Homo sapiens: one gene and its partner. The protein of the gene in region 2 purifies or fractionates together with the protein of the main gene of each other region. This does not show direct contact. Each region holds a gene or a part of one and is shown on either strand. Other genes may lie near its edges. The genes, in order: DMD and KCNJ4.

Region 1 (3,820 bases), on a different chromosome or scaffold from region 2:
CTTTTTTTTTCTCTCTTCATCCTCCTTTTCACAATTTTTTCCCCTCTTTCACTGCCATCACCTCTGTGGCATTCTTAACCTTTACAATTACCAGTGCTAGAGCCTTCTCAGACAATGCTTGAAAGTGACATCAGAAGACAATATATAAATTTTAGGTAATAAGTGTGTGAAGCAATAGGAGAACTATTCCCACCAATCTTAGTTCCCACTTCCTGGAGCTGCCTCAATCAATACTCCCCATGTATGGGGTTTGGTGGCCTTGCCAACTCAGCTTGTGGAAAGACGGAAGAGGCTTTCCAAGTTGCTGAGTTACAGCAATCTCTACTTCAGGTCAAAGAAGAAACTAGAGGGCACCAAGATGAAAAAAAGTACTGATTACCTCTTGGGCTGACCCCAACTCTGCCCTAGAGCCCTCAACTGGTATAGGGAAAGAAGTGAAGTGGGTTTTTTAATTTTTTGTTGTTTTTGTCCTCAGCCCTAGAAAATGCTACAGACTTTTACAACACCTTTTAAAATAAGTAAAGTCTTTTACAGACTATAAGTATATGATGTGTCTATATTATGATAAGTATATAATGTGTCTATATTATGCCGTATGTTTCTTTAGATTATTGACCAGTCTCTGACAAAAATAATCCCTTTCCCCCATACAAAATGAATCAGTCCTCAGTTGCGTGTTGAAGTTTATGCATTATAGATTTAAATATATAACATCTAATTCCTTGAATTGTAATACACACATACAAATACTTGTGACTTTTGAAATTTATTATTTGTTTTCCTTATGTCATCAGTGTACCTTGAGTACCATTACAATGTGAGACTACTTGATACAAAGTTTTCACATTCTGAGTTGAAAGAAAGAAAACTAAAGGTGAAAAATCACATGGTCATATATGCGACTATATTAGACCAGCATTTATTCAAAACATTTTATTTCTAAGTAAAGAAAATTAAGATATTGTTCTTGCAGCCTAAAGGAACAAAATACCCATTGAAAATGTTTAAAGCCATTTTCCAGTCCATATTTTAGTATTATTTGATCGTATTTAAATTAACATGCATATATGACATATTTTAGAAATTATTTGATGGTAACTTAGCACATGATTTTTATTAATATCCTGATATTTCTCCTATTAATATTGAGCATTTAGGTTTCAGAAATGAAGCAGGAGTTATTAGATAGGAATTAGTGTACATTTAAATCAAAATATTTTCATGTAGTTGTGTGTTAATATTTTCAGATTTGCTGTTATCTCAGTCACAAATACACATCTGTATTCCTTTATGGATCAGTTAACATTATAAATGATAACTTTAGCTCATTTCTCTAATGTTTTAATTTCTAGAACTACACTAAAAAAGCCAAAAGAATACTTTCACAGTAATTCATGACTTGTCTGACATGATGAAGTACCACACTCCCCCATCTTTCTACAGGTGCCCCTAAAAATGTGTTCTTTACAACTAGATGGGAGGAAACTTATTTTGAAACCTCAAGTACCAAATGTAAAAGAAAGGCTATGAGCACAGTATCTTATAATAGCATTCCATGAAAGTTTTAAATTGGATTTTTGTGTGTGTTTAAATAACATGTCTTATTATCTCTGTTAACAATGTACAGCTTTTTAAAAACCAAAATGAAGACTGTACTTGTTGTTTTTGATCAGAATGAAGACAATGAGGGTACTGTAAAAGAATTGTTGCAAAGAGGAGACAACTTACAACAAAGAATCACAGATGAGAGAAAGCGAGAGGAAATAAAGATAAAACAGCAGCTGTTACAGACAAAACATAATGCTCTCAAGGTATTAGAGCTAAAATTATAATATACCTTGCCTGTGGTTTTTTTTTAATATATAGGGTAAAATATAATGTGCATTAATAAAATCTGCTTCAGACTTAGTCATCAGAAACTCACTTTTTCTGTTCAATGTGTATGCTTTATTTAACATTTTTGAGTGGTATTTGATTTTGAACGATGTGTTGCTTAAAAGTTATGGCTTTTTAAAGACATATTTTTCTAAGTAGTAATTGAAAGATGGGAATGCATTCATAGTACTTATACATTTAATTTTCTAATGTGCTTTATTTTTATCAGCTACTTTATATTGAAAAAAACCTGCCTAACTGCCAGAATAACCGATCTACATGTATCCATTATTCCTGCTTTCTTTACTTAATTGATTTTGCTTGCATTAGGTCCAATTTTTTGGTAACCTGATACTTGTTTAATAAGCCCTAGATTCTTTTATTTATTTTTAAAACTTTATTATGCCTTTAAGAAAGTCACTCTTTGCAACTATCTACAAAGTCAAATTTCATTTATGTAGGAATCCTAAAAAATAATCTTAGTGCCCTTGAATAAGAACTGCTACTTTCATATTAAGCAGTGTAGTGTATGGCTTCAAGTCCCCAGGTGACTCATCTGGTTTGTGCAGGAAGAGCAGGATAAACTTAATTTTTCTATAATAATATCTAGGAAGTTCTTGAGACTAGACATGTGGAAAGTTTTGTGAAACTTTTTTTTTGTATATGCTTTGCAATAATCACTATTTGCATGCATGGCTGATTTTCTAATACTTTTAATTGCTGAGCTTTTCCTTGTAAATCACTCTTTTGAGCTATGTAGTTATGAAGGTGGATCCACCTAGCAGGTAGATGGAGTCTGCTTTCTACATGCAAATAAGAGAATAAAACCTTTCCCCCTATAGTCAACCAAATAAACACTGCTGAGAATGTAATTACACAATATTGTGCCTGCAAGGAATCCACAAGGAAAGTCTAATTGGCCAGCAGGTGTTCTGAAGGTAACTGCTGATAAATATAGTAAACAGAAAAGGCCTCTTCCTCGAGGGAGTGCAAAAGCACACCATAATGTGTCTAGAAAATCGGAACGCTATGTAACTCACACCCTTCCAACTGTGAGCAAGCTTTCAGAAGTATCTACACTGGTCGTATGATGGTGTGTGTCCTACTGAATAGCAGTGTTTAATGGTCATCTGGCATTCCTCTAAAGAAATCTACATGACATCTCTAAATATTTTACATATTATACATCACTTTGTGCTTAGGAAATGAAAGATGTTTCAGATTGATGACCACCAAGCCCTTTCTCCTGGCAAAGATGTGAGTTATGTCACAAATAAGGCATGGCTCAACTCTAATTCACGTGGCTGTATCTTGCTACCTTTGAAAAAAGCAGCGTTCGATCTGACTCCTCAGAAGGTTTGAAAATTCAACATAAAACATAAAGTACAGCAAGGTTTAAATTCCCAATTTTAAACAAACTAGATAATGAAATGTAGTTCATTCTTGCAAATACAGGCTATAAGTGATTAATCAAAATCGTCAACACTACTCGCCAAACCAATCTATACCAACATATTCAATAACTTTTTAAACCTGTCAAATAGTTCCAATTCTGGTCCTTATGAAATATTTTAGAGAAGGTCAAAATTTTCCAATGGAATGAAATTTTTAGAAATTCCCTGATATTTATTATTTTTTCGCTCGAATTAAACCTGTGAATAAAACCCTAATTGCTACTTTCTGTAGAAATGAAAGCTGCATGCAGAGCTTATGTTCCCATGAATTATAAAATGGCATTTTGAGTAATTCTATTAATCACAGAAGATATTGAGTGTGCTTGTAAAGAGCATGATGACTGATTTCCTCCCATTGTTGATTTATTAAATTAGTCTTATCACATTGATTTGAAAGCATGCACTTGCTGTTTTCTTTTTTCAAATAGTTAATTGTTTTGCATTTAGAGCATGATTTGGTATAGTAAGATAAATGTGGCTATGCAAGCCTT
Region 2 (3,820 bases):
AGCTTAAAGAGACCCAGACCCTGCTCGCCTCCCACAGACCCCACAGCTCTGGGGAGTGTCAGTGAGAGAGGAGGGGCCGGCAGCCCTGGGAGCCATCAGGACACAGAGGAGTCAGGAGCAGCTCCGGGTTGAGAGGCTCTGCCACCATTGCTGAGTGACCCTGGGCAAACCCTGGTGGTCTCCGGACTCGGTTTCTCCATCTCCCAGGAGAGGAAATGGAGAGAAGGCCAATGCAGCCGCAGACAGGAGCTGCTGGGCCAGGCTTGGTGGGGGCTTCTCCTCCATCCCAGTCCCAGGGAGCTCCTCCGCCCAACTGCACCTCCCATGCCCCAGCTCCCCTCTGCCCTGCTGGGGGCCCCCCAGGCCTAGACCAAAGCTCCCAGCTGACAGGTCACCATTACAACGCTGACTTCTCCCTCCACAGCTCCTGCTGGGGTCGGGAACACCAAGGACCCCCTTTCCTGGTAGCCCCTAAGGACCTCTTGACCTGCCAATGTCTCTCTGGGGCACCTCACCCTCCCCTGCCTGCCAAGGCCAGACGTCCCAGCTGTTGGCACCAGGGCTGGTCAGGGACTGGCCAGCAGCCACAGGGAGGAGTGGCTGAGCTGTTGCATGGAAGGAAAGGGGAGGCCTAGGCTGGCAGACATGTACCCACCTCCCTTCAGGTGGCCAATGAGGGTCCTGGAGGGGCTGGCACTGGGTGCACAGTAGGACAAAGCATCTGTGGCTGTTTCCACCCAGGAGCCTGGAACCAATCCTTGCTTCTCTCTGAGCCTCAGTATTCTCATCTGAGAAGTGGGGGTGATGGTTCTCCCAGGGTGGTGGAGGATTAAGTGAAATCATGAATATGAAGCCCAGCGCTGAGCCTGGCACTCAGCTTCCCTCCTGCAGCAATACCCTGAGAACACTGCTCTCACCCCAGCCACCAAGCAACGGCACCAGCCATCTGAGCAGCCCTCACGCATGCGCATGCGTGTGTGCCTGTGTCTGTGCCTGAGCATGCACGCGCAGGCTGAAAGGGGGCTGCGAGCAGGTGGGGCAACGGGTGCAGAGGGAGGGGCAGGGGCCACACGCCAGCACTCCTCCCCACCGGTTTCCCACCCTGTGTGTCCCAACAGAGAACAGTGGTCTTAGAATCAGGCAAAACCCATCCATTCAAATCCAGCCTGTTTCCAGCCAGCCACTTCCCCTTGCTGAGCCTCAGTTTCCCCTTCTGTAAATGAGAATCATCTATGTCCAAAGTCTTCCAGGTTCACGACAGGGACCCCGTGTTGGGCCACGGGGCCAGGATTGGTCAAGACCTTTGGGAGTGGGGGGCCAAGACCAGAGCAAGCCAGAGCGTGAGCTCACCCCTGCTCCCCATGCTGCACCCCACCCACCACCCCGTGAGCGCCCGTGTGCGCGCCTGCAGGAGCGCGCGTGTGTGACTCAAGGTCTATTCATAGCCGAGCTCCACCAGCTGCAGCGTCACAAGCAGAGGGGCCTCAGCCCATATTATTATTTCAATTACCATCTGAATTAAAAGTTTGAGCAGCGATCAGCCCACGTAGCGAGGGGAAGAGGGAACAGGAGAAAAATAAAGATGAAAAGGAGAAGAAGGGCTGTGACTGGCGATCCCCCACACCCCAAGGAGGGCTGAGTCCGCAGAGGAGGCTTAAAGGTTATGCCAACCCCTAGGATTCCCGCCTGCCCCTTGCCAGGACCCACAGTCCTCCCATCGTTGGGAGGAGCGCTTTTCGACAGCAGCCCAACCACAGCTACTCGGTGGAAATAGATCTTTCAGCCCAGGTTCACATGGATGGGTGGACATCACTCGGAGAGGGTGAGGGACTGACCTAAGGTCACACAGAGAGCCACCCAAGGAAGTTGTCTCCAAGACCCTCTCCTGCCAGCCAGGTCCCACTGACCTCACCAGGCTCTGTAGCACATGTGCCATTTCCCTTCTGCTCCCCTCTCCCTGCGCCGATAACTTTCCTCCTGCAGCCCTAGCTTGGAGCCAGCCCTCTCTCAGCCCTCTGCATTCCCGACCTCACACCTCATGCCACCACCGTCAGCCCAAAGGCCCCTCCTCACTCACTGGCACAGGGGACAGAGCCCTGGGCCAGGAGACAGGCAGCCTGGCCCTAATCTAACTCTCTGGGCACCTTCGGGCAGGTCATTCCTTGTCTCTGGGCCTCAGTCTTCCCATCTATGAAATGAGTTCTCCCCTAAGATGCATGGTGGTATCTGTCTTCAGAATGGAGCCCCCAGAGGAGCCAGAGGATCCCTGAGGGGGTGTCACGCTGTGGGGGCGTCTAGACCATCTCCTGCCAAGCCCCAGCCCCAGGGAGGAACGTTTTCCACTCTTTCCCCAGGGAAGCCCCAGAGACAGCCCCCGAGAATCAGACTAGTCTGAACTCACACCCAGGCTCCTCTGCTGTCTTACTGTGTGACCCTGGACAAATCACATAGATTCTCTGAGCCATGGCCCTTCCATCTATAACACGGGGACATCAAATCAACATTGCCATGGAGAATTAAATGGGAATTTGCAAAAGCTCCTAGCCCAGTGCCTGGCGAGCAAATGTGTTTCCTCGCTGGGAAGCGGGGAAGCGATGGGCACTGCTTCCCAGCTCCTCTTTGGGAAACACCAAAGACTCCTAGGATTTTGGAAGTGGGGATGTTATTCGGCCTCACCCGTAAGGCGAGAGTCACCTGGCAGGTGCTCATCTGGCTCTGCTTGAATACCTCTAGGATTGAGGAGCCCACTATCTCACAAAACAACCACAGCTGCTCCCTATCTTGCTCCACCTCCAGCTCTGGGAATTTTCTAGAATGGAGCATAAGCTTCCAGTTAACCCCAAATCCAACCTGTCCTTGCCTGGGACTGCCTGAAACTGGCTTTAAAATGAGACTGAAAGGAGTTCTTCAAAGAGACCAATAGAGGGAGGGGATTAGTGCCCAAGGACAGTGGGGTGAGGGGATCTGGAGAGAAGGGAGGGAGAAAGGAGGTGGCCGAATTCAGAGCTGGGCCCTCAAAGCTCCTGGGTCCTGTCTGGGCTTGCCACAGTGTTACACAGGGACATCTGTCTGTCTGCTTCCAGATAGAGCTGGGAGCCAGAAGCCCTGGATTCAGGCCCTGGCCCTGCTTCCTCCACCCCCAAACCATCACTGTGACCCTCATGGGTCCACTTCCCCCTCAGGCCTCAGTTTCCACTTTTGTAAAACAATGGCCCTGGCTCTGCTTCCTCCGCCCACAAACCATCACTGTGACCCTGATGGGTCTACTTCCCCCTCAGGCCTCAGTTTCCACTTTTGTAAAACGAAGGCATCAGACCAGTGATTTAAGCTCCAAACCTTCTGTCTGAATCCAGGCACCCTCCCACTCTACCCTGTCCAACCCCTGCCCAGCATGCTGGATCCACGGGCCCCTGAGTGTCTATGGTTTCAGAGTCAGAGGCCTTATCTCTACTCCTGTCTCCTGCTTTCATAGCTGTTGCCTTTGAGGATTCTGTCATCCCCATTTTACAGGTGGGGAGATGGAGGCATGAGGCATTGAAGCCAATTGCTCAAGGTCACAGAGGGTGATTTGAAATCCAGGGCTCCCTCCTCTGGGCCCAGGAGAGCCGCAGAACTTAAGGGCACCTTCTTTCAGGAGAATCGCCAAGATCTTAAGTGGCCAGCCGTTCTCTATACAGATGTGGACTCCACATGAGGCAAGGGGCTGCCCAAGGTCACAGAGCAAGGCACTGACAGACCAGGGTCCTGAACCAAGCCTCCCTGCCCCCAGGCTCCACCCAGACAGGGGGCTGGCAACATGACCTGACTTTCTGCCCTGGTC

Evidence for each region.
Region 1: the proteins of KCNJ4 (region 2) and DMD purify together in Homo sapiens (affinity purification with western blotting, with the first as the bait; one study listed by BioGRID). This does not show direct contact.

The regions. Positions count from the first base shown.
Region 1 is NC_000023.11:32,343,934-32,347,753, reverse strand, and holds part of DMD (dystrophin), read left to right. Parts: intron 1-1,673; coding exon 1,674-1,811; intron 1,812-3,820. UniProt on the Homo sapiens protein: Anchors the extracellular matrix to the cytoskeleton via F-actin. Ligand for dystroglycan.
Region 2 is NC_000022.11:38,448,561-38,452,380, forward strand, and holds part of KCNJ4 (inward rectifier potassium channel 4), read right to left. Parts: intron 1-3,820. UniProt on the Homo sapiens protein: Inward rectifier potassium channels are characterized by a greater tendency to allow potassium to flow into the cell rather than out of it.